Linked DNA regions of Homo sapiens: all the other regions are reported to be linked to region 1. The links are microRNA targets in miRTarBase. Many come from high-throughput screens and were not tested one by one. Region 1 holds a microRNA gene; each other region holds the end of a gene's coding sequence.

Region 1 (4,066 bases):
GCTGTCAGAGGCTTCCCAGATGCAGTGTCCCCTCCTGCCATATGGCACAACTCGGCTCTCTTGGCAGCTCAGATGGGCAGCTAAGGCTGCACAGCCCATCTGGTTCCCTGTCATTTCCCGCCAGACCTCTTCCTCAACCCTCAATATCTTCCTCTCCCCCTTTATCACGGAGTCCCCAGTGTGCTCAGCTTTCTGGCCCCCTCTTCACGCCTTATGAGGTCCTGCCTGTCACTGGTTCTTTCACTACCTCTTCACCTCTCTCACCTACCCCCTGCTAAGGAACAGGGCTCAGAAGCCCGAGTGAGAGGACCTGACTACTCCCAATGTATAGAGCAGGGAATAATTTATTGCATAAATATGTCAACGCTCTCCCTTTTGATCGGCATAGAAATCTTGCCACGTTTTCTTGCCTTCTGAAAACGAAGAGCTGACGAACACGCCTCACATCTATAGCTGACACAGCGATTACCAACGGACAGAGGCCGGAGAGCTGTGCACGCTCGGATCCTGCAAAGGCAGGGTGTGGTTGGAGAAAGAGAAGTGGGTGCAGAGGAACAGGGATCAGGGCCGTTATAAGGAAACATTCTTGTTTCTGAAAATGGAAAGATCGTGAACTCCCAGAACCCGCTTCTTCGCCCGCCAACCCCTCCGCCTCCTGCCGCGGTGGCAGCCCCCGGCGCCAGGCCCAGCCGCAGGCCCGCCACGGCTCGCGGCAAAGCTTGGCGCCCGGGTGCGCGCCTCGGCCGGAGGCGGTGGCGGGGCGGGGCCCAGAGAGGGCCGGCAGGGGCGGGGCCGCGGCGCGCGCCGGGGAATCCCACCCGGGCTCTGACGACACCGCGGCGCCGGCCAATAAGAAGCCGGCGAGGGGGATTCCCGCGCCGACTGCCGCCCCGCCGGCTTTTTAAATGGTACCCTGGGGAACACCTTGCAGCGGCGGTGGGAGGAGTGGGGGACCTGGAGGGAGGTGGTGAAATAGAATGGTCCTGGGGGACGGGACTCCAGGGGTTTGACGATTAGGCGTCAAGACTGACTTAGACCTGGGAAGAAAACCAGAGGCAGTCGAGCAGAGAGGCCAAACGCCAGGCAGGGCGAAGTCAGCCGGAGATGGAGTGGAAACTGGAGCGCACCGCGCCTCGGAGGGTCCGCACGGAAGAGGAGATGCTGTGGGTGAGTAACACCCTTTTCTGCATTCTCCCTAACTCTCTAATGCGGGGCCGAAGGCCCCGTTCATAATATCTGTTTAGGACCAAGAGGTGGTACGAAACTCTAAGCCCTGGTCGTAAATTTGAGTGATGTAATTTAGTTATATTCTGAAGGTGCCTAGTTGCCAAAAAAAAAAAAAAAAAAAAAAAAAAGTGTAATCTGACAAGCACAAGATCTAGAAAAATTCCACACCTGAAATTATGATTTTCCTAAATAGTTTCTCCCTCAATATGTTATCTGTGTTTTCAAAGGAAAGTATCATGCGTGTGCTCTCCAAAGACTTGAAGCAGAAGAGAAGTCAAGATTCCGCCAACGTGAGTCCAGGGCTTGTTCTTGTTCTCTGTTTTAATTCTGATCTTGAACAAACGAATTCTTGGTAAATAATGTATTTGTAGGAAGTTTGAGCTGGTCTGAAAATATGAGAATTTTAGTATCTTATTACATACTAAAAAAAATTTCTTTATGAAACTGAAGATCCCAGACAAATAATGCAATCGTTTGCATCTGAATCGTACTTTCTAGTTTCTGCCTCCACAGCAAAGGATAAAGCTGGGATGTGTCAGGTAGGCAGTGTATTGCTAGCGGCTGTTAATGATTTTAACAGTTGCTAGTTGCACTCCTCTCTGTTGCATTCAGAAGCACGCCCCCCAAAGAAATGGAAATGGTGCCATCTTGTGGACAATGTGGAGAAGTGGCATAAACCATGGTTCTTAACGTGAGCAATTTAAAGTTGATCCAATGTAGTACCTGTTCTCCTTGAAAGACCAAACCCAAAGGTCTTTAGTGTCTCCTGTAATCAGTGTAAAAGGAAACAAATTTAAATGGTTTTATAAACGTGTTTCATAAAGAGCCTTCATCTGCTTTAAATCTCTGTCACCATTTACCATGCTTCTCTCTAGGCTCAATAGTTCATCTTCCTTTGACCTGTACGCAGAGATTCTAGTTCCAAATCCACCACCATTTTAATAGATTTTTCTAGATCTTATATAAATTTTGCAACTAGGCACTGTGGCTCATGCCTGTAATCCCGGCACTTTGGGATGCTGAGGCAGGAGGATCACTTGAGGCCAAGACTTCAAGACCAGCCTGGACAACACAGGGAGACCTTGTCTTTATAAAAAAACTGCAAAAATTAGCTGGGCATGATGACATGTGCCTGTAGTCCCAGCTACTTGGGAGCCTGAGGCAGGAGGATTGCTTGAGCCCAGGCGTTCAAGGCTGCAGTGAGCTATGATTGCACAACTGCACTCCAGCCTGGAGGACAGAGCCAGACCCTGCCTCTTAAAAAAAAAAATTCAGTATTCAAGTGGTAACATCCTATATTGAATACATAATTGCATTTTCAGAACTCGATTACTAATGTCATTTCTAGTAGGAGAAAACTAATTGCATTTAAGCCCTTACATTTCTTAAATACTTTAATGTTGATTTTTTCCCCCAAACACTGCTGCAGTTTTGTGTCGTGCACAGCTTATGTATTATCACGACTCCTAGATATTTTACTGTCTAATACAGACAAGTAGTCTTTGGATCAGTAAACAGAAGTGATTTGAAAAGCTATAGTTAAGTAACTTTTTATTTATTTTTTTGAGACAGAGTCTCACTTTGTTGCCCAGGTTGGAGTGCAGTGGTGCAATCTCGGCTCACTGCAAACTCCAGCTCCCGGGTTCAAGTGATTCTCATGTCTCAGCCTCCTGAGTAGCTGGGATTACAGGCAGCACCACCACGCTGGGCTAATTTTTGTATTTTTAATAGAGACGGGGTTTCACCATGTTGGCCAGGCTGGTCTTGAACTTGTGACCTTAGGGGATCAGCCAACCTTGGCCTCCCAAAGTGCTGGCATTACAGGCATAAGCCACTGCGCCCAGCCTACAGTTAAGTAACTTTTAAAATTCATTTGTACTGTAGAACATATTTTTATCCAAGCATTTAATTTGGAAAACCTAAATGTAAGTATTCTGAAAGTTTTAAAGTTTTTGTTTAACTTTTATGTTTTTGACTAGATTCAAGCAAATATTGATTTTATTTCTTATAGTCTTGAAGTAATACATTTTGTGTATAAGTTTTCTTTAATGTGACTATTAAGATTAGAGTTCTGCCACTATGTTTCATGTTACAAATTTAGCCTCAGTGACTGCCTGGGCCACGAGAATCGGCAGTGACCTGAATCAGGTAGGCAGTGTATTGTTAGCTGGCTGCTTGGGTCAAGTCAGCAGCCACAACTACCCTGCCACTTGCTTCTGGATAAATTCTTCTTGTCAATGAAGTGCTCTGGATACCTGTGTGTGATGAGCTGGCAGTGTATTGTTAGCTGGTTGAATATGTGAATGGCATCGGCTAACATGCAACTGCTGTCTTATTGCATATACAATGAACATCAGAGTGTAACTGAATCTGTAATTAGTGTGTGTTTATGTGTACTTTCTGCTATGAAGCAAGCCACTATTTACCATAATATATTATTGCCATTAGCTTATAATACAGTAATACTTACAATGCACAGTTTTATAATGGTAAGGAAAGTATTACAATTACTTAAATTTTTTCCTTTTAAGAAAAATTTACTTATGCCTGCTTTTCCATAACTAAAAATTTTTAAGAAATATTTTTGGAGTCTTTGGAGTCTTTCGGAGTAGACAGTGTTTAAGTATTTATGAAATTACATGTTTTTAACTATAAGGTTTAGAATGTAATAACAATGTGGAATGGACCTACAATGTGTCCCCAGATTTTCAGTGAAGTCTTTAGGATTCTTTCTGCATTATTAGTTTCTTTCTTTTTTTTTTTTGAGACGGAGTCTCGCTTTGTCGCCCAGGCTGGAGTACAGTGGCGCGATCTCGGCTCACTGCAAGCTCCGCCTCCC
Region 2 (4,066 bases), not on the chromosome of region 1:
GTGGTAAGCAACCTCCCCAAATCCCCTTTCAAATGCTGTGAAGTAACTCCACACCTATGAATCTTCTACACAAAACTATACCTTCAACACTGCCTTTAAGACATAGAGAATGCCAAAATTGCAACATAACTATGAGTAAAATGAGAAAAAGCATTAAATCTTAGCACCACGGTCCCACACATGCCCACCCCAAGGCTCTGTTAGGTAAACTGCAAGAAAGAGGGATAGCTGGTGGGGGGGCCTGAGACAGAGCTGGAGCAAGACCCTCAGAATCATCTACCCTTAATTTGAAAATGCAAAAAAACAAAACAGAATCAAAACCCTGGCCAATCATAGGAGAACTGCAGGAAACAGACTTAAAACTATGTGTCATTTATAGGCCGGAGCAACTGTGTCTCACACTGCTAATAAAGACATACCTGAGACTGCCTAATTCATAAAGAGGTTTAATGGACTCATAGTTCCACATGGCTGGGGAGGCCTCACAATCATGGTGGAAGGTGAATGAGGAGTGCTGTCTGAATAGCCCACCCCTTAATTTGCATGTAATTAAAACTGGGTATAAATACTGCTAGCCAACAGCCTATATGCTGCTACCCTGGGTATACTGCCTATGAGTCAGCCCTGCTCCACAAGGGGCAGCCACTCTGCTGTGCCCTGCTGCTTCAATAAACCCAATTTCTTTTACTGCTGGCTGCCTCTTGAATTCTTTCCTGAGCAAAGCCAAGAACCCTCCTGGGCTAACCCCCAGTTTGGGGGCTCATCTGCCCTACATCATCAGCAGAAAAATAGAGACTCAAAGAATCAGAAGGAAAGATCAGAAATCAAAGCCACCATAAAGAAACGGAAGAATGCCTTTGATAGGCTAATCAGTCATCTGAACATGGCCGGGCGCGGTGGCTCACGCCTGTAATCCCAGCACTTTGGGAGGCCAAGGTGGGCGGATCATGAGGTCAGGCCATCAAGACCATCCTGTCTCACACGGTGAAACCCCATCTCTACTAAAAATACAAAAAAATATTAGCCGGGTGTGGTGGCGGGCACCTGTAGTCCCAGCTACTCAGGAGGCTGAGGCAGGAGAATGGCATGAACTTGGGAGGCAGAGCTTGCAGTGAGCCGAGATCGCGCCATTGCACTCCAGCCTGGGTGACAGAGCAAGACTCTGTCTCAAAAAACAAACAAACAAAAAAAAAAAAACAAAAAAAAACCACACAACTGACCAATGACCAGGTGTATGGGCTCCAGGCAGCATCCAGCTGGGTGTAGAAACCCCCTCCCACCAATAAACAAATGAAATAGAAAAACAAGCTGGGTGTGGTGGCACATGCCTGTATTCTCAGCTACTTGGGAGACTGAGGCAGGAAGATTGTTTGAGCCCAGGAGTTCGAATCTAGCCTAGGCAACATAGGGAGACCCCCATCTTAAAATAAATAAATTTAAAAGAAAAACAATGAAATATCCATAGCAGCTTAAACCAATAATCAGTTTTATTTTTTCTCATGTGATAGAAGTCTGGAAGTCCAGGGCTGCTGCAGACACTCAAAGAGGCCACAGGGGAGGCCAGGGTCGCTGTGAGCTTTCTGCAGTCACTTCCTTAGACTGTGGTTTTCATATGCACGGTCGTTAAGGTGGATCTTCCAATACTAGGTACTGGATCTCTTTGCAAGGTGAAAAGTAAAGCAAAGAACAAAACATACAGGGAGGAATTCATGTTTAAGAACGATCCCCATTCAAGAGCTTTCTCAGAAGCCCATGTGGTGACATCTGCTGATCTGTCAGTGGCCAGGGCTGTGAGACATGGATGGTACCAGCTGCAAGAAAACCTGTAAGAGATTTTTTAAAATTTAGATTAGCACACCTTACTAATCTGACAGAACCTGGATTCTCTTGATATTGGAAGAAGATGAGAGTGGATACCGGGGAAGTCACTAGAAGTATCTGTCACTCTTGGCTGGACAGCAGGCTGCAAACATATTACCACTTGATGGAGGCATCATGCTCTGGTCGCAATCCGTGTGCATCAGGTACCAGTAACAAAGTGGTACTGAGAAATATCCTCATGTCACATAGATCTCAATATGCCATTGGTCAAGGAGGTTGTCCAGAAGGAAATTAGGACGTTATCAAGGATGAAGCTATAGTAAAAATACTATAAACAAACCTTTCTTGATGAGGCTTAAGGGTTATTTAGAGGAGTATAACCTTAAAAATAAAGATGAAAAATTTATGAACGGGGCTCTGTTTTCATGATGAGAGAGTACGTGCAGTCCCGTATTCACCGGAAAATCTCGTTGGGGCTTCTCTCGGGGGGTCTGTTTCCGTGATGAAAGAGTAAGTGCAATCCCGTATTCACCGGAAAATCTCGCTGGGGCTTCTCTCCGTGAGAATATTCACATGCTCAAGTGAGGGGACCATGGCTGGAATCATTTCCACATAGGAATTATCAGCACTAATTGTATTTTAAAAGTTTTGTAAAAGAAATTTCTCCTAGCGTAAGTGCTCACAAGATTCATAAAAATGGAGGAATTGCTGCAGGCAGTAATTGAGGAATGACTGCATGATTATTTTCAACCTCAGCAACAGTGACGTTTGGGGGCACTAACTCTTCGTTGTGGGGGGCTCCTGTGTGCTGGAGCCGACTTAGCAGCATCTCTGATGTCTTCTTATTACAAGTCAGGAGTATCTTCCCCCCATTCTAACTACCAAAAATGTCTCTAGACATTGCCAAATGACGCCTAGACAGCCAAATCGTCGCCCGACTGAGAACCCGTGCTGTAGACCAAGGGTCGGCCAAGTTTTTCTGGAAAGGGGCAGATGACAGGAAGTATTTCAGACTTCATTGGCCACAAATTTTCTCCATCAAACATTCTTCTTCCTTAAAGATGGAACCACTATTGTTAGCTGGCAAGCCATACAAAGACAAGCAGCTGGCCGTGGTTTGCGGCCCATTCATGACCTTCCACGTTCCTTACTTCACTGATTTCTCTCTTTAGTGTGATTTCCGTCATGAGGAATCAAGTGAGACTAGGAAGGGTTTCCCCAGCCACTGTGTTTACAGAGATGCTCCCTAGTGTGCTCATTATTACTCATGGGCCCAGAAGGCTAGAAGTGGTCTGAAGTCATTTTGACATTAAATGCCACGGCTTGGATTTTGACATTAAATGCCAAGCTGCCATTAAGTCCTCCTGTGTTTGTTAAGAGCTGAATGTACCCTGAAGGCTTCTCCATGCTACAGACGTACATTTTCACCCCCGGCGTGAGTTCTCACAAACCTCCTATGGGATGAGAACGCCTCGTCTTCCCAGTTTTTACAGGAACTGGACTTCTCCCAAGTTCCGTGGATTCTTTTGCACCCAGTAAGGTGCGAGCTCACAGAGGCTTCCTCTTACACCCACGAGGTCTGTTTCCGGTCTGAATCATCCTGTGTCTCTAAAGCAGGCGCGCTCACTGGAGCCTTTTCCACACGGATGACACAAAGAGCTTCTCTCCCCGGTGAGTTTTCACGTGGCTCCTGAGGGATGAGTGGTCGCTGAAGGCTTTCCCGCAGACAAGGCATTCGTAGGGCTTCTCCCCGGTGTGGATCCGCCTGTGCACATTCAGGTTGGAGCCTATGCTGAAGGCCTTCCCACAGTGATCGCATTCGTACGGTTTCTCCCCCGTGTGGCTTCGCATGTGCGTCTTCAGCGTTGACTGGTTCCTGAAGGCCTTGCCACACTGCCTACACTCAACTCGTTTCTTTACAAGGTGAACGCTCATGTGCCTCCGCCGGGATAAATAGTCACCGAAGACTTTCCCGCAGGCGGCGCATTCGTAGCGTCTCTCTTGCGTGTGTATCTTCCTGTGTGCGGTGAGGTTTGAACTCGCGCTGAAAGCTTTCCCGCAGAGATCGCACCCGTATGGTTTCTCTCCAGTGTGAGAGTTCATGTGAGTCTTAAGGATGGACTGGTTTCGGAAGGTCTTCCCGCACTGCCGACATTCCACGGGTTTCTTGACGATGTGAATCCTCATGTGTTTCCTCCGGGACACGAGATCGCCAAAGGATTTCCCGCATTCTTTACATTCGTAG
Region 3 (4,066 bases), not on the chromosome of region 1:
ACTGTCCTCTTGGATTCTATATTGCAGGTAGAGGACTGGCATGGTAATAGGTGACAGCGTTGTTGGCTTGTGCACTGGTAGCTGCTGCTAAGAATGGGAAGGGCAGTGTTTTTGACTCCTTGGAGGTCCTGGAGGGTGTTTGTGGCTTTGGCTACTCCTTGCTCCCAGGCCTGGGCCATGCAAGCACACACCTTGTTTCTCTGATGCAGGACTTGGAGAACCAGATGCATATAGCGGAGCAGCGGAGGAGAACCCTGCTGAAAGATTTCCATGACACCTAAGTTGGGATGTGGATGTGCCGGGGTGAGGAAGATGTGGCTGCAAGGTCTCCCGGCTGCCATACTGCATGCTGCAGGCTCTGCCTTTCATGACCCCAGGCAACAGCCAGGGCCCCACTCCTGAGAGACACTGGCAACACCTCTTAGTTGATTTCTGTTTTCTTCTCTTTTCACTTTTTGTTTCTACCAGGGTAGAGGCCATGTTGAACTGGCCTCTTTTCAGGACTTTTATTTCCCCCTGGATGGTTGTTGGGAGGGAGGGAAAGTGTTTTCTGAATGGCTATTAATAGTATTAGATCATTACAACTTATGTAACTTTCAAAGGTTGTACAATTATACAAAAAAAAAAAAAAGGCAAACTATAGGATAACACAGAGCCCTTTTTGAAAATAAATTGGCATTGGAGTGTTTTACCCTCTAGCTGTTTTACTTAGAATGTAACATATGCTGCCTACCCACCTCAAAATGTCTGTACTGCAAGAGGGCCCTGGGCCTCTGCTTTCCATATTCACGTTTGGCCAGAGTTGTAGTCCCAAAGAAGAGCATGGGTGGCAGATGGTAGGGAATTGAACTGGCCTGTGCAATGGGCATGGAGCACAAGGGGTCACAGCATGCCTCCTGCCTTACCGTGGCAGTACGGAGACAGTCCAGAACATGGTCTTCTTGCCACGGGGTGTTGTTGTCTCTGGTGGTGCTGCATGTCTGTGGCTCACCTTTATTCTTGAAACTGAGGTTTACCTGGATCTGGCTACTGAGGCTAGAGCCCACAGCAGAATGGGGTTGGGCCTGTGGCCCCCCAAACTAGGGGGTGTGGGTTCATCACAGTGTTGCCTTTTGTCTCCTAAAGATAGGGATCTACTTTTGAAGGGAATTGTTCCTCCCAAATAAATTTGCTTTACCTTGGTCCTTTCTTTTGTGCCAGTATTCAAGTGGTATAGCTCTGAGCAGGGTCACATTTGGCCAAACCTGACACTGTCTTGCTGCATTCTCCTTTGGCAAACATCAGGGTCAGAATTCAGGATAGCCCTTCCTAGGGCACTGGACTTTCTGGCATGGGGGCTGTGTTTGCACAAGTTATTTTCATGTTACCTGGAGAGTGTCCAGAGGCTGCTCTGAGGCTGAGGTGTGTTCCCCCTTGCCTGGTTCCAGCTGTCAGAGGGATACCATCCTAGGGTCTGGGAATCCAAGGCCACGAGACTCCTTGGTTTGTGGTCCGAGATCCTGTACTAAGGAGGGTCTGGCCAGAGGAACAGACCAGCTTTTGCACAATGAAGCGCAAGGGAACAAGTGGTTTGCCTGGTGTCCTACCTGTCCTGAACCTGGTCCTGTGGGCCATTGAAAAGTTAGATCTGTGATCTCTGGGGTTTTTGTGGCTTTGTTCAATGCTTCCACTCTAGGGCAGGCAGAGCAGTCTATACTCTCCCAAGCCTGCTTGACCTCCAAGTAGAGCTGATACAGAGATCTGTGAATATTGTGATAGAAATTCTTTGGTATTCATACATTTCAGCTGCAAGTCAGCAATTTCCCAGGTACCATGTAAGCTATAAAACAGTCATTCTTAAAGACAGAGGATAGCTGTGACTCATGGGATCATGAGGTCCATGGCTGGTTGCAGGTTCCCTTTTTCCTTCCTCAGGTTTTGTCTCTTCCTGTGTTGTCCCCAGCAAGGGAGAGACTGTGGGGTGGATTGGGAGAACAGATTAGGAGTATAGCAAATGAACCCAGAATGGAACAGTGGGGAGCTAACTGTGAATGAGGAGAGTACCTGCTGCAGGACCTGGAGGTCAGGTGTGAATGCTGTATTGGCACAGGGAATAAATATCCTGGCGTCTGGAGCCTTCACCTCTCCGTCAAGTCCTTCCTGTGATACTGCCATGGCACAGGATCTGAGTTGCAGCTCTGCACCCTAAATCACACCCTGGGCATTGTCTGGGCTGCAGGGCTGCCAGGTTCTGTACTTGTGTCCAGCTGTGGCCCTGGATGCTGGAGCTGGAGGGTTTTCTGTGCTCAGACTGTAGCCTGTAGCTCTTGGCCTGTGTAGAGCCCCCTCCTGTGCCCTCAGTGGCTGTCGTTTGTTAACATCATCAGGAAGATGGGAAAGGTCAGGCAGAATTTTTCTGCCCTACAAAGGGTGGAAGAGAAAGGACACAGTATTTTCATGAATTTACCATATATCTTTGTTTTTCTTCAACGAAAAAGTTAATTGAGGCAATGTCATCTGCTCAAAGTTGAGTGGTTTATTCACAATAAACTGTAAGTTTCTGATTATAAAAATGTGTCTAGAGTCTTTCTTCATGGGGTCTAGGTAGTCTTCTGAGCCCACAGGGGTCTGGCCAGTGAACACCAGAGGAGTGCCTTCCTATCAGTCAGCCCCTTCTTCCAGAGGGCTGTGGAGGCCCCAGTGGCCAAACTCGGCTCTGTTTTCCCTTTCTGGCTGTTGGGGGAGAGGGCACCTGTAAGTGATCCCTGTGGAATGAAGTAGAAAATCCTGCCAGTTTTCCGCTCTCCTCTCCCTCAGTACAGGCTGAATCATTCCCCACCACAGATAGATCCCAGGGTTGTGGTAGAGTACTGATATAAATGTCCCAACCCCCCCATTCTGAGACCTCCGGACCCCTCCAAAGCAGACATGGGAATGTAGGGCTGTGGAATATGGCAGGGTGAACTCCAGCTTCACGGGAGCCCTAAGGGTTATGAAGAGACAACTTGGGGCAGAAACAAGTGTGGAGTCTAATCTCAAGGGTGAAGGACAGGAAATGAGGTTTGGATTGATTAAGGGGGTCCACATTTGTGGTGTCAGAAGTGGCAGTAGTGTCAGTGATAAGTAGCTCAGGGGTAGAGTGGAGGCTCCATAGCTGTGGGCAACATGCACAGGGCACCTGTGGCTAGAAGAGGCCTCATACATTGCCAGTCTGAACTCCGCAGCTCTTCCTCTGGACCTCAGGTGTGCCAAGCCCCACGCTTGGCACCTGGGCATACAGTGGTATGCAAGTGATTCACGTGCTCTAGCTTCCAGGAGCTTCCAATCCATGGGGAACATAGAAGGAATTGATCACTAGTGAATGTTTGTTTTTTGTTTTGAGACAGTCTCGCTCTATCGCCCAGACTGGAGTACAGTGGCATGATCTCTGCTCACTGCGGCCTCCACTCCTGGGCTCAATTATTCTGCTTCAGCTCCCCGAGTAGCTGGGACCAGTGTGTGCCACCATGCTCCCCTAATTTTTGTATTTTTTTTTGTAGAGACAGGGTCTTGCCATGTTGCCCAGACTGGTCTCAAACTCCTGAGTTCAAGCTATCTTCCTGCCTTGGCCTCCCAAAGTGCTGGGATTACAGGCATGAGCCACTACACCCAGCCCACTAGTGAATGTTTTTACTGGAGCAGCAAGGCCAGGAGCAAAGGACCACCCATGCTCAGGGCCACTCCTGCAGATCAGTGGGGCCAGGGTACTATGGCCTTGGCACCATACCTTTGGCAATCCTAAAAAGAGAGAAGATAGCACCTTCTAGCGAAGTCAGGAGGGATTTTCCATGTAGCCCACAGGGGTTTACACAATAAGCATCTGAGCATCTCCTGTATAACAGGCTCTGCTTGGGGCGGGATAGAAAGTGATAGAAGTGGGACCTCACAAAGACAATCACACTAATGTTAACTGAGAACATACCCATTTAGTCCTCACAGCAGCCCCTTGAGGTAGGTGCTGTCATCATCCACATTACACAGCCATTTAAAATGAGTTAGGGGCCTGGCGTGGTGGCTCATGCCTATAATCCCAGCACTTCAGGAGGCT
Region 4 (4,066 bases), not on the chromosome of region 1:
GGGCTGGGCATGGGAGCAGGAAGGGTCCAGGGCCCCCACACGCTGCTGAGACCTGCCCCCCCTCCCCAGGCCTACACGGATGAGCTGGTGGAGCTACACCGGAGGCTGATGGCGCTGCGGGAGCGCAACGTGCTGCAGCAGGTATCGCCCCCCTGAGGGTCCTGCCCGGCAGAGGTCGGGGTGCCTGTGAGGAGTGTGGGCTGCGGGGGCCCCTGGTGCTGCCCCAGGAGCCCCTACCTCTGTTAGGGAACAGGGCAACCCCACCCTTGGCCCCCTGCCCCTGAAGCCACCTGCCACCACCTTACAGATTGTGAATCTGATCGAGGAGACTGGCCACTTCAATGTCACCAACACCACCTTCGACTTCGACCTCTTCTCCCTGGACGAGACCACCGTGCGCAAACTGCAGAGCTGCCTGGAGGCCGTGGCCACATGACCCTGGGCCGCGTGCCGGGCCCCCACCGCCGGGGTCCTGGGAGGCTGCAGCCAGGCCTCGCCTGCCCTCCTCTCCCGTCTCGCCTGCCCGCAGCACTGCCTTAGCGACAGCCCTGTCCTCGCCCGCACAGCCCGCTGCACTTTCCTCGGCGGCTCCCTGCCCACTCTCCCCGCTCCATCGCCAGGAGCCCTGGGGCCGGGCTGGGCCACACGGGAGCCGCCCCCCGGGCTCTCTGGGCTCCCCTCAGAGAGCGGCTGGTGTTGAAGGCAGCTCTGGGCAGAGACAGGGCCGGGGGCCCCTCGCCCAGCCTTGGGACCAGCCCCCACTGCTCGGCGGGCTGTGCGGCGTCGCTGCCCCAGCCTTTCTGAGCAGCGGATCGACGGCTGGGGGGCATCTCCAGCCTCCCGAATGGTTCAGAACACACCCTCCGCCCACCCTGGACCTCAGAAGGCCCTGCCTGTGTGTCTGCGTCGTCCTCCGTGTAGACCTAGCGCCGGCTCCTCCCCGGCTCGCGCTGCGCTGGGGTCTGTGCTGTATAGTTCTCTCTATTATATATGTGTGTGCACTGTCTGGTCAAGAGCAGTGTCCATGTGCGTTTCTGTGGCAGCAGTGCACGTGGGGTGGGTGGGGGGTGCGTACGGTGGGGCTTGTAGGTTAAGATGTCTCTGCGGTGGTGTGGGGCTGGAGGCCGAGCCAGGCACGGCAGCTGGCCCTCTCCAGGCGCATGGAGGAATTCTCCCTTTGCCGTTCCAAGGATGCCGCCGCCTCCTACCGGGGCTCCCGGGGGGGTCAGCCAACACTACAAAGGGCAGCGAGTCCTCAGGGCGCCCGGGAGCCACCAGTCTGCTCTCGGGCTCTACTCAGACTAGCGCCAACAGTCTCCGCGGACAGACTCGCATCAGCCGCCCTGGGGCTCGGCCTCCTCCCATAGGCTCCTCTTCCTCTCTTTCATTCAAGTCTTCAAACTTTGAAAAAAATATGAGCTTTTGCCAAATAAGACGGGATAGTTTATGGAGTTTTCTGAGGCGCATTGAACTCTGGTCAGCCCCTCGAGCGTGGGCTCGGCCATCAGCAGGCCCGGTGGGTTGGCCGGGCTGGCCCTCCCAGGCTGCCTTTCTCTCTGGTCGCGGCCTGGCCCGCCCCGGCCTCCACCGCCGCAATTCATGCTGGTGCCGCGCCCGCAGCCCCACTCCTGGTATGCCTGAGATTCTCCAGGGGCCAAGCCGGTCCTCCTTCCCGGCCCACTCTTCCAGGGCCAGGACGCTCCCGCGGAGCCAGCCCATCGTGGCTGGGGGTCCCAGGGGCTGGAGGCCTGCCTGGTTAGCCTCTGTTTCCCAGACATTGACTCGAGGCGCCTCCAGTCCTCTCAACCCCCTGACTTTCAAGTCCTTTCAAGTCCTTGTGCCCTGACCAAGTTATGAGGAAAAGAGGGCTGAGGGCCTGGAGGTGGGCTCGCACCCCCTCGAACCCACCTAGATGTCTCCTCCTCCCCAGCCTATGAGTTCAGACTTGGGGGGCTCCATCTGTCCCTCCCTGAGGTCCCTCATCTTGTCCCTGCTCTGATTCTGTCAGCAGATCCTGAACACTCCTTGGTGGGGACCCATGCCTCCAAGGCTGCCCCCAATGCCAGCTGTCCTGGGGAAACTCCCCAGAACTCTCGGGGAAAGGCCCGAGAACCTTCGGAGGAAGCCTCCGGGACTCCTCGCCACCTGCTCTGTTTCTCTCCCGGCCCCACTGCCTTCAGGTATCAGGAAGAGGGCAGGCCCCTGTGCCCCCTCTCCCCTTCCCAGGGCGGCCAACAATACTCCACCATGGGGCGCTTCCTTTCTTCTCTGGAAACTAAGACATTGGACTGAAGGAACTGGCCTGAGGGGGGCTGACCGGGGGCCCGTGCTGCTGGGAGCTCTACGCACAAGAGGCCGCCGGGGTCACGGACAGGAACCTCAGCCCAGGGTGCTGGCCTTTCTCCTTCGCAGGAGTCCCCCAAAATCCACACAGCGACTCGAGCAGCCTTCCACTCAGCCAGAGGAGGGTCGGGCTCCCCCGCCTGCTCTCGGTGGTGGCGTCTGGCCCTTCCTGCCGTTTCCAAGGCCTCCGGAAGCACCAACCCAGTTCTCAGTTACCTCCTCTGGCCGGAAGGCCTCACGTTGTCCTCCAGAGCTGCTCTGGGCCCAGGGCTGGCTCCGTGACCACCTGATGGACGTGCTGGGCAGCATGGGCTCCCAAGGCAGCATCCCCAGCTGCTCTCCCACCCCACCCCAGCTGCCCGGCGGCTGGGCCCACGAGGGCTCTGGGGACACTTCCATAGGAAAGGGGCCTGGCACTTTGTGATTGCCACGTGTTTCCTGTTAAGCCGCCTGCCCCCAGTGCAAATCTCTGTGTTTTGCTCTCTCCTGAACAAAAATGTAAACCGACGCCGGAAAGCAAATGGTATCGAATACCTTTCTTGCCCATAAGGGTTTTTACAAAGAACGTGTCTCACTAGGAACTAGGACACTCATCGGCCCGAGACCAACTCCTGGATAAAAGGAATAAGGAGAATCGTGTTTGTAACGAGTTACAGGATTGTTTCTTTCCTGGATTTTAAACTTTTGTTAAATTGTGAAATTATGGAGGAGTTTTATAGAAAAAAAAAGTGAAATAAAGTCAGATGGGAAAGCAGACGCATGCATCTGCCTGGTTCCTCCTGTCCAGTCAGTGGGCAGGCTTGCGAGGTAGCCTGGGGCCCCCTGCCCCGACTACGTGTCCCAGTGCCCCCAGATCAGTGACCAAAACAGAGAAGGAGGGTTGGGACCAAGCCTGGTGGGGGTGGGGAGTGTGAGCAAGGCTGGAGACGATGCTACCAGCAATTCAAGAGGGCAGAGAATTCGGCTCACATCCTGCTTCTGATGCTGTGCTCTCTACTTGGAAGCAGACAGCAAGGTTTGGGTTGAGAAGAAAACTTGGTTTCATAAGGTGGATGCATGGATGATGGATGAACAGATGGGTGGGTGAGTGGATGGGTGGTTTGATGGATGAGTGGATGATTGGTTGGGTGGACCATGGATGAATAGATGGGTGGGTGGGTGGAAGAAAGGATGGAAGGATGGATGGATCGATGGGTGGATGGAAGGAAGGAAGGAAAGGAGGAAAGGAGGGAGGGAAGGACGGAAGGAGGGAAGGAAGGGCAGATGGGTGGATGGATGGAAAGGATGGATGGTAGGAAGGATGGATAGATGGGTGAGTGGATGGAAGAATGAATGGATGGGTGGATCAATGGATGGGTTAATGGGTGGATGGAAGGAAGGAAGGATGGATGCGTGGATGGATGGATGGATGGATGGATGGATGGATGGATGGATGGATGGTTGGATGGACGGAAATAAAAATGTAGGCAAAGACATTTTTTCCCAGGAGCCAGCGTGCCATCTCCCAGTTTCCCTCTGGTGGGTTTTTCTCTGGCCTCAGTGTGGCAGAGCTCAGTGAACCTCCAGGAGACAAAGCTGTCACTGGCCCCATTTGAGCAGATCTGTCCCCTCTGTGCTCCAGCTCCAGCTCCACCCAGAGGAGCAGGAGTTCCATTCCTGAGCAGCCCACATTACAGGATCACCGTGGCAGCCACTGATTGAGATCACTTTTGTCAGCAGGCAG
Region 5 (4,066 bases), not on the chromosome of region 1:
AGACGACATGATTGTATATCTAGAAAACCCCATCGTCTCAGCCCAAAATCTCCTTAAGCTGATAAGCAACTTCAGCAAAGTCTCAGGATACAAAATCAATGTACAAAAATCACAAGCATTCTTATACACCAACAACAGACAAACAGAGAGCCAAATCATGAGTGAACTCCCATTCACAATTGCTTCAAAGAGAATAAAATACCTAGGAATCCAACTTACAAGGGATGTGAAGGACCTCTTCAAGGAGAACTACAAGCTACTGCTCAAGGAAATAAAAGAGGATACAAACAAATGGAAGAACATTCCATGCTCTTGGGTAGGAAGAATCAATATTGTGAAAATGGCCATACTGCCCAAGGTAATTTACAGATTCAATGCCATCCCCATCAAGCTACCAATGACTTTCTTCACAGAATTGGAAAAAACTACTTAAGTTCATATGGAACCAAAAAAGAGCCCACATCGCCAAGGCAATCCTAAGCTATGTGTTCTTAAAGAGGGGAGTGGTAGCTTTGTAACTTACAGTGAGGCTTACACCTTGACAACTGCAAGAATGAGGATAGTGGTGAGTGAAGGGAGATTTGTTAATTATGGCATTTCCCTCTATTATCGTCTAAACAGATTATATTCCCACTAAAGTATGTGTGTTGGTCCTGCCAGTATTAGAAACCAGAGGCTTGTTGGCATTGTGTCACACAGTACACACCAATGGATTCTCAGATTTTCTAGGGTAAAGGTGAAGGATGGGGCAGCACTTAGGTTATGGTGGTTTGAAAGAAACTGAATTGCTTTCTAAACCAGATGAGGATCAGAGTGCGAACCATGGTGAAATATGCATGGAAACTACAGAAAGACTGAAGTGTTTCTTACGGTGTTTTCTGCAAAACGTGATTCATTAGGACATTAACAGGTATTACGTTTTCAACATATACAGCATTATGATACAGTAAGTTTGGACCAAACAGGTATTCATTCCCCAGAGCCTTTCACATGCACGAGAATCAGTCATTTTAACAAGAATTCCGTTTCTGCTGGGCCACTTGGATCCCTTGGATTCAGATGTAAAAACACACTGAAATATTCCTCCTTTCACCTGCTTTTCAGTTTGAGGTAATCAGATTGAAAAGCAGGAGTTCATGCATTTTTTGGTTCTATTTTTCCTCCTCTAGTAAATGAAGAAAATAAGCTATATGTATAAGTTTACATTATTCTTGAACCGCTTTTTAAACTAGGGTTTTTCATATTTGTTTTTATTGATGACAATTAAAGCAATTTAAGAGACGAAGTTAGCTCAAAACTCTTGCGAATAGATTTTAGCATTTTTGTATGAGGGAATATGGAAAGGCCAACAAGCAGCACTGTTCCTCCCCACAAAAATGCCTTGGGAATATAATAGGCGTACACTTCATTTGTGTAACTTTTCCTAATGTATTTTTTTTTAATTTGCTTTATAACGGTTTCATGTTTACCTCAATTGGTACTTAGTCTTAAAATCTTTCTTTATACTTGGTTATTGATGGATCTTCTGCAGCTCTTATGTAGCCAATGAGACAGATGAGGGCTGTCAGCTTTTAAGTGACATCTTAAGCTAATAAGAAATTGGAATCCTCAAGTCATTTCATGAGGCTGTTACCCTTTAAGACAAATAATACTTTCCTCAAATAGTTCAGAAAATTTTTAAAAGGATCACTTAGAGCATAAGTGTAAAATTCTTGCTTCTAGTATATAATAGTGATGTTACCATGTCAAGTATTTTGGTGAAATATCCCCTAAAAATGTGTAGACTACGGCACAGATTGAGTATGCAAGCCTTAGCTTGAATGAGACTGCTGAGAAGTAAATGACAGGGATCTGAATACTTAGCAGGCTTAACTTTTTGCAGGGAAGGAAAGGCTATGTATGCAAAAGAATAGGTTGTAACTACTGAAGAGCTACTTTATGCTCAGAAACCTTTTATTCCACTTTGTATCCAAGATTTCATTAAAACATTGTTCCTTAGAGCATACTTTAAAAACTATTTGGTAAGGAATCCACTGTTGAACTTCAGGTCTTAATAGCACTGGCTTTGGTGCTAAACTGAGTTGAATTCCAAGCCTGTTGGCCATTCCCAGCATTGCCACTGCTGTGTTAGTTTTCTCATCTGTAAATAACTGCCTACATCTCACAGGGCCTCTAATAGTTAAATAGATTGTAAGCTGCACAAGCATAGGGACAGTCTGTCTTTTGTAAACCTCCCATGCACACAATAGGAAATCAAATATTCTTGAACAAATGAAGTCACTAAGTGCTCATTAAATTTCATTTTAAATATATGCCTCTGTTAATTCATGGATCTTGGAACTTACTTAAAAGACAATGCTTTGACGGACATTTCCACATTCCTCATAGGGATTTACTTTTTAATACAAACAGGTTCAGTTAACATTGCCATACACATCTCATTACTTTTGGGAGTGCTTTTCCAGAAATCTCTGGTAGTCACGTCACTTCATGATGGGGCTACGTTCTGAGAAATGTGTCTTTGGGTGATTTCATCACTGTATGAACATCACAGAGTATACTTACACAGACCCTGATGATATGTATATAGCCTGTTACACACTTAGGCTATACAGATAGCCTAGCCTATTACTCTTCAGCTATAGCACTGTACAGAATGTTACTGTAATCATACTGTAGGCAACTGTAACACAATGGTAAAACATTTGTATATTTAGACATAGAAAAGGTACAGTAAAAATATGGTATAATCTTATGAGACCACCCTTTATACAATGTCATTGACCAAAATGTTACGTGGTGCCATGACTATACTTGTTAAGAAGGAAAATTCCAGTCCTTTTGACCTATGGTAGGCTCAACAATCTGTAATTTTAGAAAATCCTACAAGGGATTCTGATGTGGATGGTATGAGTACCACATTTTGAGATGTCTAGAAGAAAAATCTTCAAACTCCTTGGCCTTTTTCTTCCATGGAACCATCTTCTGACTAAGCTGGTTAGTCTTCTGAACTAGAAAACCTGGGTCTGGGATAGAATCCAAAATTTGCATGTGGACAGAAAAAAACACTGCAGCAAACCTGCTGTACCAAAGGTTACTTATTATACTTCAGTGCTTACCATTGTTTTTTTTACTCCTTTGGTTTAAGGTTTGTAAAGACATCTAGCTGTTAGGTTGAAGTGAGCTCTTCAAATAGACCATTATATATATAAGTGTTAAAAAAGCACATGGTCTAGTCCCTAAAACAGTCATATTTTATTCTTCTGAACAGCTACTTACAAAGTAATCTCAATCAGTGAAATTATAAATCATGTAACTGTTCATGATTAAAAGGCAAGACACAGCCAAGACAGTAGATGGGCAAGTCTCACATAAATACAAGAATGTTTATAGAATGTTTAGCATATCATGTTAATGGACAATAGTTTTCCGTTCTCTACAGAAGTATGAATGAAATGCCAAAGTTGAAGTCACTGGTTATATTCATAACCAGCTTAGTGAGGATGTTGCCCACTGCCTCACATCTGTAGGACAGTTGGGATATTTCTGCAGAGCATTCATAATTTGAGTATTATCCAAAAGCAGTTTCATCAGCTGGTACTCTCTCTGTGAATTTCCTGAAGTTCTTTCCATGGGCTTTATTAATTCTAATTGCTGCAAGTGTTCAAAAGCCTGAAAGATGAAAGAAATAGTTTAGGTTGAATAGGAGAGGAGAGTGACAACTCTCCTGTTCTCTCCCAGAGAACAGTTAGCATTTTGGTCAGCTGCAGAACAGAGTACTGGGAAGCAAAATGTAACAACAATCAATAGGATTAAAAAAACTCTCACAACCCCATGAAAACTCATATTATCAGGTAAAACAGTGTCAGTGCACACTTACTTGTCCATATATTGTTGAATGTAAACACGGCAAACTTTAATTCAATATATACAATATGGTTTTCTTCCTAGCCTCATTCTCTATCATAGCTCCTCCTAGTACTTTAATAAATAGTTTCCAGTTCTCTGTAAAAACCTAAGAATCAGATAAGACTTTCTGATCAATTCCCTAGGCTACTCAGATTTG
Region 6 (4,066 bases), not on the chromosome of region 1:
TGAAGGAAAAGGAAGATAATGATAGCTGGCGTTTCTCAGTTTCAGGGAGATATAAAGGATGCCTTGAGGATTTGGAACCTGGGAAAGGAGAGTGAGTGGATTTTTGGGGGTGGGGGTGTGTATGTGTGAATATTTTCAGATTGATATATATTCACTGTTGATGCCAATAATAAACCAGATTTTTTTCCTTTTCAGGAACATCTAGTCTTCACAGTATGTTTATCATATCAGTACTCAGGATTGGAAGATACTGTAGAGGACAAGCAGGAAGTGAATGTTGGGAAACCTCTCATTGCTAAATTAGACATGCATCGAGGTTTGGGAAGGAAGACTTGCTTTCAAACTTGTCTTATGTCTAATGGTCCTTACCAGAGTTCTGCAGCCACCTCAGGAGGAGCAGGGCATTATCACTCATTGCAAGACCCATTCCATGGTGTTTACCATTCACATCCTGGTAATCCAAGTAATGTTACACCAGCAGATAGCTGTCATTGCAGCCGGACTCCAGATGCATTTATTTCAAGTTTCGCTCACCATGCTTCATGTCATTTTAGTAGAAGTAATGTGCCAGTAGAGACAACTGATGAAATACCATTTAGTTTCTCTGACAGGCTCAGAATTTCTGAAAAATGACCTCCTTGTTTTTGAAAGTTAGCATAATTTTAGATGCCTGTGAAATAGTACTGCACTTACATAAAGTGAGACATTGTGAAAAGGCAAATTTGTATATGTAGAGAAAGAATAGTAGTAACTGTTTCATAGCAAACTTCAGGACTTTGAGATGTTGAAATTACATTATTTAATTACAGACTTCCTCTTTCTAAGATTTTGTGAATTGGTTGAATAGTTCTATACAAATGAAGTATGGAGGTGTGTATGTTTATATGTATATAACAAAATATTTTCATTGTGACCACTCTGAAGTAAGAGCAATGGGAATGGCATTATTGTAGAATAAGTCATTGTATTTTTAACACCAGAAAGAACCTTGCCGATCACCAGGCATAACCTAATTTTATCCATGGAAGAAACACAGAAAGGCATCTAAGTTAGAGCTGGCACCAGAACTGAGACCTCCAGAAATCTATTCCAGTATTTTTTCCACTACACAACTGCCTTCCTGACAGGTTCTGAGATAAGTGTTATGTTTGTAGATAGAGTGAAATATATTTATATATATATAAATATATACAGATACATATCTGTGTATTATCTCAAGGAATGTACAAACTTTAGTTTTTGATTATAAGGACTTCACTGCAAGTTTTAGTTAAGAGGTTTGTATATAAATCTGTTATAGAACAGGCTGAAATTTCTTGTTCATAAGATTATGAAACCACATGAGAAGTGATAAAATGTTTGTTAAAGCTAGATAGAGGTTAAGAATCAAGATATAATGGATAATTTTCATAGCTGCCTATCAGAATTTCCCAAATATTTAGCATCTTCCTTGATAATATGTATTTTCTTCTTGAATTTCACTGGCCTAATGAGATAATACTCTTATCTTTGGCTCTACCTAAAAGTTGGTTAAAAATGCAATTGGCATTAACAAGGAAAAATACTGAATTAGTAATTTTAAAAGTCTCACAAAGAAAATCCCAGGCCTAGATGGCTGCATTGTTGAATTCTGCCAAACATTAAAATTAGCACTAATTTTTTGCACACTGTTTCTAAAAGTAGGAGAGGAAAGAACACTTCCCAACTTACTCTAGGTCAGTATTACCCTGATACTAGACTAGACATCACAAGAAAACTATAAGCCAATATTCCTTATTAATACAAACACAAAAATCATTAACAAAAATATTAGCAAACTGAATCCAGCAACCTATAAAAAGGATTCTATATCATGACCAAGTGGAATTTATCCCAGGAATTCAAGGTTGGTTCAACATCTAAAAATCAAATAAGCTAATATACAGTCAGTTCTCATTATTCACAGTAATTATGTTCTACAGAATATTCTCCCATAAACACTGAATTAAATATGGAACAACTGCTTTTAGGAGAAAGTGTATTTGTGTATATGTGTGTATACATATGTTTATCTCACACACATTATGAGCTTGAATTCTTAATTCATCCTAGCAAATTCTACCTTATTTTACAGAAGTGAAAGTGAGGTATCAGAAGTGTTAAGTGACATGCCTGAGGCACCCCCCTAACAGGTGTCAGAGCTGAAATTCAAACCCCATCCAGCTGGCCCCGGAGCCAGAGCTTCTTGTACTACACAGAATTGCCCCTGCCATTTCCACCCTCCAGTCATTTCTCTATGAGACTGAAGCAGGAAGGCAGAGCATCATCTTGTTCAGCCTCAGCTGGGAACATGTGTACTGGGTGACTCAAATTTTTCACCCATTTACACATATCCACAAATGACTGCAAAAGTGCCACGGATATCAATTTGAGGGTTATAAATTTTAGCAAGTTGGTAAATTCACAAATACATAACCTTGAATAATGAGGATCAACTGTACCATATTTAATAAAGCACAAAACCCACACAGATTGTCTTATTACAGCATTTGATAAAATCCAAAACTCTTTCATAAAAACACTCAACAAACTTAGGAATAAAAGGAATCTTCCTAGATATGATAAATATAACATCTATGAAAAGCCCACACCTAACATTATACTTCATGGTGATAGACTGAAGGCTGAATGTTTTCCCCTTAAGATTGGGAAGAAGGACAAGGATGTTCACTCGGCACTACTTCTATTCAGCATTGTACTTGAAGTTCTAGCCACAGCAGTTAGGTTAGGAATTCAAGGTTTGTTCAACATCTAAAAATCAAATAAGCTAATAAAGAAAAGAGGTTTATACTGCAAAAGAAGTGAAACTATATGTATTCACAGTTGATACATAGTTGTATATAGAAAATGCTAAAGAATCCATAAAAAGTAATAAATGAGTTCAACAGGTTGCAGGATACAAGATCAGTTTTATTTCTCTACTAACAGCAAACATTCTGAAAATGAGAATAAAGAAATCCTATATACAGTAGCATCAAGAATAAAACTCCAACACGTTTAAAGAAATTAAGATCCAGATAAATGGAAAGACATCCATGTTCATGGATTGGAAGACTGAATATTGGTAAGATGGCAATGCTGCCCAAATTAGTCTACATATTCAACAATTCCTATCAAAATCCTAGCTGTATTTTTTGCAGAAATTGACAAACTGGTAAAATTGGTAGGGAAACGCAGGGGACCCAGAATAGCCAAAAAACCTTGGAAAAGAACAAAGTTGGAAGACGTACCAATTTCAAAAAGTGCTACCAAGCTACAATAAGACAGTGTAGGCATATGGATAGACATATCGATCAGAGGAATGGAACTGAACATCCAGAAATAAACCCATACATTTCTGGTCAACTTGTTTTCAACAAGGATGCCAATACCATCAATAGAGAAGGAGTGGTCTTTTCAACAAACGGTGCTGGGACAACTAACTGGTAGCTACGTGCACAGCAAAAGGATCCCTACCTTCCTACCACATTACAAATTCTAACTCAAAATGGATCATAGACCTCAATATAAGAGTTTAAACTCTTAGAAGAAAACAGAAGTAAATCTTTGTGATGTTGGGCTTAGGAATGGTTTCTTAGACATAATACCAAAAGCACAAGCAACAAAGGCAAACAGTAGATAAATGGGACTTCATCAAAATTAACTTTAGCGCCTTAAAGGACACCATTAAGAAAGTGAAGTTAACCCTCAGAATGGGAGAAAAATTTTTGAAAAATCATGTATCTGATAAAAAAACAAACAAACATGCAGGTGCTCAGCTGTGGTTACCACCGAGCAGCACTGTCCAGTGAACTTGCTGTGATGATGGGATGCTTGGTATCCGCACTCCCAGTGTGATAGCCTTTAGCCTCATGGGGTTGTTGAGCAGTTGAAATAATAGCTAGTGTGAGGAACTGAACATAAAATTTTAGTTTTAGGATGGGTGTGGTGGCTCACGCCTATAATCTCAGCACTTTGGGAGGCCAATGAAGGCGGATCACTTGAGCCCAGGAGTTCAAGACCAGCTTGACCAAGATGGCAAAACCCT
Region 7 (4,066 bases), not on the chromosome of region 1:
TGCTCACAGCTTGGCTGGTCCAAAAGGCCTGCCCAGCTTTCAGCCTCTCGTGGCCTTCAACATGACTTTCTCGCTAAGTTTAATCATTTCTGGCTTTTGATTTAAAGAAGAGTGAGAGATGGGGACTATTCCTTTTAGTTGAACACTTAGATGCAATTGTAGGGTTAATAATTGGCCTAATTTCAATCTTGTTTTGTCTCAGGGAACAGGGAGGCCTGAGGAGAGAGAAGAGAAATAGGGAAAGGCTGTTTGGTGGGCATTCAGGACATTTATTGATGAAAAGTTTACCATCTTTAATGGGCATAGTTCATGACACAAATGCTTAATTTGTAAAAAATACAATGTAACAAGGGTATACCTGTATTGGGAAATGAGTCGGAGCTTTAAGGCAGGGAAAATTTGCTTTTATTCTTCATTGAAGTAACTTATCATCTGTGGGTGTCTCTTTACAGATGTGAAGGAATGGACAAGAGTTGAGCAGCCTTTCTGCTGATTATCACACATCATGAGCTGAGTGACTGCAGCTTGCCAAATCTTTGTGTTTCTGGGTCTGACCAATTAGCTTAGTTCTTCTCCTGCCTAATTTTGAACTAGTAAAGCAAAGTGAGTCATCAGATTATGAGTTACTGTTTAAAAGAAAAATGCTGTTTATTCATGCTGAGGTGATTCAGTTCCCTCCTTCTTACAGAAGTATTTTAATTCACCCCACACTAGAAATGCAGCATCTTTGTGGACGTCTTTTTCACAAGCCTCCAAGGCTCCTTAGATTGGGTCGTTACTAAAAGTACATTAAAACACTCTTGTTTATCGAAGTATATTGATGTATTCTAAAGCTAGTAAACTTCCCTAACGTTTAATTGCCCTACAGATGCTTCTCTTGCTGTGGGTTTTCTTTTGTTAGTGGTCTGAAATAATTATTTTCCTGTTCTATTAATACATAGTGTATTTTGCACAAAAAAATTAACCTGGTCAATAGTGATTACCAAAATATATATTAATAATCTTGGCAATTTTTGACATTAATTATGAAACATTTTAGCCCACGTTAGTTCTACATTATTCTTCACTTAAACTCAGCTACTGCAAATTTTGTCTTTCTGTAAATGTTATTAAAATATCCAGTGAGCTCTTTAGAAGGACTCAGTATTATTTCAAGACTATTTTTGAGGTAATTCTAGCCTTTTAAAATATTCTACAGACCTACGGGGCTTAAAAGAACCCCAGTACCGACTAAGCAAATAGGCAAAAGACATGTTGGAAATGTAGTATAGTACTTGAAACAGTCACTATCATAGGGATAATTGGTGCATCCTGTGTAAATGGAAGCTGAGCTTGACACCTGGTGCTTTTAAGTAGGGATAAAGTCATCCTCTCACTGCAAGCACAGCATACCTGTACCTCCAAAAGTGACGTTTTAGTGAACAGGCCGTTTTCAACACTTGTGCCTTGGGGTGTTCATTGAAGCTTTGTGAAAACTACTGATGTTTTCTCAGTCTCCTTAAAGTTACGTCCATGCTTTAAAATGTCTGTGTAGGAGAGAAGTGGGGTTTATAATGTTTTCTCTAAGATATCTTTGCTGCTTTCCAGACTTTGAAACTATTAAGCTTCTTAACTGCCTCTTACCGGAAATACTTCTGGGGAAACTTCATGGTCCCAAAATGTCATTGCCATACAGCTTCACTAGAGTTCTTTGAACCACAGCTGAAAAGAGCTTTGTATTATTTTTTAATTCCCTCCCCAGATATCATTTAGGAGTATTATATAAAGGTGGTGGGCAAAAACAATGTAAGGAGCCTTTCCAGTTATCTTGAGTTGCAGCTCTGTAGTTTCTTGAGGCCAAACACACTGTATTTTACAAGTCAAAATATAATTTACATTAATCACTATGTTAATGAGTATGTAAAACATTCTTTTGCATTGATGAATTTTGTATCTGCTTCCATTAAAAGCATAACAGCCATAGTTGTTGCGTGTTATTTTTAAAACTATTTGTCACAAAGTGTGGTGTGGTACCACATAACGTGGTAACTTTTGGTTAGTAATCCAGCTGAGAAACAGCTTGAACATAAAAATAACATCAGTGTATTTTATGAAAAATTAGCAAACAATAGGTATATTAACCTCCATTTTCAGTCTTTTATAAAAACTATTCACATCTATTAAAAAAAAACCTATGGGACTTCAGCCAAGATTCAGTGCCTTTCTACTGGATTCCTCTTACTAGATGCATCCGAAGAGGCCCTAGTTTACTTTCTCCAATCATATAGCCACCAGGTATTTAATACAGTAATATTTATGTGTATAACCTGTAGTGCAATTATACATGATTAACTTCATATGGTGGATGAGAAAACAAACTCAGAAATTAAACAATTTGGCCTCATGTCCTTTAGTTTTCCCAAGGCTTCCTTGAAAAACATCTAGCTCTTGGCCAGGCACGGTCGCTCACGCCTGTAATCCCAGCACTCTGGGAGGCTAAGGCAGGTGGATCACCTGAGGTCAGGAGTTCGAGACCACCCTGACCAACATAGTAAACCCCGCCTCTACTAAAAATACAAAAATTAGCTGGGCATGGTGGCAAGTGCCTGTAATCCCAGCTACTTGGGAGACTGAGGCAGAATTACTTGAACCCGGGAGGTGTTCAAGTAATCTCAGCAGTGCGCTGAGATTGTACCACCGCACTCCAGCCTGGGGAACAGAGACCCTGTCTCAAAAAAAAAAAAAAAAAAAACCTAGCTCTTAATTATTCCTAGTAAGGTGTGAGTTAATATGTATGGAATGAAGCAGGATTGTTGGAAAGATTGTTCTAGCATACTAGTCTAACGGCTGACCTGAAATACCTTGAGGTGGTTTAGTACCAGCTCTATTGGTGAATGCCACCAGTAGCTCATTTCTTTTTTTGAAATGGAGTCTCACTCTGTCACCTGGGCTGGAGTGCAGTGGCATGATCTGGGCTCACTGCAACCTCCGCCTCCTGGGTTCAAGCGATTCTCCAGCCTCAACCTCCTGAGTAGCTGGGGTTACAGGTGCACACCCACCACACCCAGCTGATTTTTGTATTTTTAGTAGAGACAAGGTTTCACCATATTGGCCAGGCTGATTTTCAAACTCCTGACCTCAGGTGATCCACCTGCCTTGGCCTCCCAAAGTACAGGGATTACAGGCGTGAGCCACCACACCCGGCCACCAAGTAGCTCATTTTAACACAAACACGAAGATGTTGTTTTGCCCACTGGGACAAAAAATGCCAAGGGTACCTTTCACTTTATACCCAGGTAGATACTTTTAAATTGAGACAACCACTATGTTTGTGTGTTGGAGTTATAACTTTGGTTCTGTTTTTACCCTTTATTTGGAATACAGTGCAACATTACAGTTTTGGATCATTAAATGAATGGACTTGGTGATATAGTACTAACAAGCACGACCTGAATTCTGGGAGTAAGTGGTTTTCTAGTTCATGGGGGAGGAAAACAGATACGTGCAAGATCTCCAGAGGAGAACAGAACCATGGTACTCAGTGAGTCACCAAAGGGCTTTGGCTTCAACTCACTAATGGCTGGAACAAGTGCCAGTCTTGGTCAGCCATCCAGGATTTTCATCACAGCAAATCAAAATCTCCAATTTTTCAAACTAATTGTAGGTAGAAGAGAGAGAATAACTCCAAACTGTCTTATAAAAGGATCTAGATGACTACTGAAGTGTCCTCCATTCATGAGTTGGCAAAATCTTCAGAGTGACTGTTGGAGCAAGGAGCCTTTCATGTGCTCCCAGTTATTATATAGTGCATAGAGGCTGGTAAGTGTTAGTCCTGTCAGACCACCTCGTGCTATCCCTCGAAGACCACCTGGGAAACAGAGACAAAAGGAAAATGAAATAGCTGTATATTGCATAGTGCCCTAGCACGATAGGGTTAAATAAAAAGTACTGTGAAATGGGCTGGGCACGGTGGCTCAGGTAATCCCAGCACTTCGGGAGGCCGAGGTGGGTGGATCGCTTGAGGATAGGAGTTCAACCAGCCTGGCCAACATAGTGAAACCCTATTAAAAATTCAAAAAAATTGGCT

Evidence for each region. Region 1 holds the annotated microRNA hsa-miR-449c-5p (UAGGCAGUGUAUUGCUAGCGGCUGU, at 1,768-1,792, shown strand). A microRNA usually pairs through its seed, bases 2 to 8, with sites in the 3' UTR of a target mRNA and lowers its output. Matches are read on the target gene's strand: a 7mer-m8 pairs with bases 2 to 8, a 7mer-A1 pairs with bases 2 to 7 and ends in A, and an 8mer does both.
Region 2: the mRNA of ZNF317 is a reported target of hsa-miR-449c-5p. Seed matches in the 3' UTR shown: 7mer-m8 at 2,534-2,540.
Region 3: the mRNA of ARIH2 is a reported target of hsa-miR-449c-5p. Seed matches in the 3' UTR shown: 7mer-A1 at 726-732.
Region 4: miRTarBase lists MLLT1 as a target of hsa-miR-449c-5p. Seed matches in the 3' UTR shown: 7mer-m8 at 531-537 and 7mer-m8 at 2,170-2,176.
Region 5: the mRNA of ORC4 is a reported target of hsa-miR-449c-5p. The part of its 3' UTR that is shown has no 7-base or 8-base seed match.
Region 6: the mRNA of MALT1 is a reported target of hsa-miR-449c-5p. Seed matches in the 3' UTR shown: 7mer-m8 at 1,112-1,118 and 7mer-A1 at 1,414-1,420.
Region 7: the mRNA of NCOA4 is a reported target of hsa-miR-449c-5p. Seed matches in the 3' UTR shown: 7mer-A1 at 576-582 and 7mer-m8 at 1,612-1,618.

The regions. Positions count from the first base shown.
Region 1 is chr5:55,170,039-55,174,104 of GRCh38, reverse strand. It overlaps MIR449C (microRNA 449c), which reads left to right and starts at 1,752; the gene lies at 1,752-1,843. CDC20B (cell division cycle 20B) reads left to right here and starts at 928. Exons shown (of 12, transcript NM_001170402.1): 1 at 928-1,167; 2 at 1,455-1,517. The coding sequence starts at 1,105. MIR449A (microRNA 449a) reads left to right here and starts at 3,483; the gene lies at 3,483-3,573. It overlaps MIR449B (microRNA 449b), which reads left to right and starts at 3,363; the gene lies at 3,363-3,459. RefSeq lists silencers at 493-822, 910-1,204.
Region 2 is chr19:9,160,812-9,164,877 of GRCh38, reverse strand. ZNF317 (zinc finger protein 317) reads right to left here. Exons shown (of 7, transcript NM_020933.5): 7 at 1,465-4,066. The coding sequence ends at 3,445. Among named protein-coding and RNA genes, the nearest start is that of OR7D2, 16 kb to the left of the region's middle.
Region 3 is chr3:48,982,990-48,987,055 of GRCh38, forward strand. It overlaps ARIH2 (ariadne RBR E3 ubiquitin protein ligase 2), which reads left to right. Exons shown (of 16, transcript NM_006321.4): 16 at 210-3,393. The coding sequence ends at 281. It overlaps LOC124909376 (a long non-coding RNA gene), which reads right to left. Exons shown (of 2, transcript XR_007095903.1): 2 at 2,496-2,744. Among named protein-coding and RNA genes, the nearest start is that of P4HTM, 5.2 kb to the right of the region's middle.
Region 4 is chr19:6,209,412-6,213,477 of GRCh38, reverse strand. It overlaps MLLT1 (MLLT1 super elongation complex subunit), which reads left to right. Exons shown (of 12, transcript NM_005934.4): 11 at 70-141; 12 at 308-3,097. The coding sequence ends at 436. Among named protein-coding and RNA genes, the nearest start is that of MLLT1, 69 kb to the left of the region's middle.
Region 5 is chr2:147,932,027-147,936,092 of GRCh38, forward strand. ORC4 (origin recognition complex subunit 4) reads right to left here. Exons shown (of 14, transcript NM_181741.4): 14 at 1-3,672. The coding sequence ends at 3,484. Among named protein-coding and RNA genes, the nearest start is that of ORC4, 87 kb to the right of the region's middle.
Region 6 is chr18:58,747,210-58,751,275 of GRCh38, forward strand. MALT1 (MALT1 paracaspase) reads left to right here. Exons shown (of 17, transcript NM_006785.4): 17 at 196-4,066. The coding sequence ends at 633. All of the region lies in intron 1 of LOC105372146 (a long non-coding RNA gene), which reads right to left. Among named protein-coding and RNA genes, the nearest start is that of LINC01926, 65 kb to the right of the region's middle.
Region 7 is chr10:46,002,984-46,007,049 of GRCh38, reverse strand. NCOA4 (nuclear receptor coactivator 4) reads left to right here. Exons shown (of 10, transcript NM_001145263.2): 10 at 453-1,962. The coding sequence ends at 458. It overlaps TIMM23 (translocase of inner mitochondrial membrane 23), which reads right to left. Exons shown (of 7, transcript NM_006327.4): 7 at 3,308-3,847. The coding sequence ends at 3,732. Among named protein-coding and RNA genes, the nearest start is that of SNORA74C-1, 20 kb to the right of the region's middle.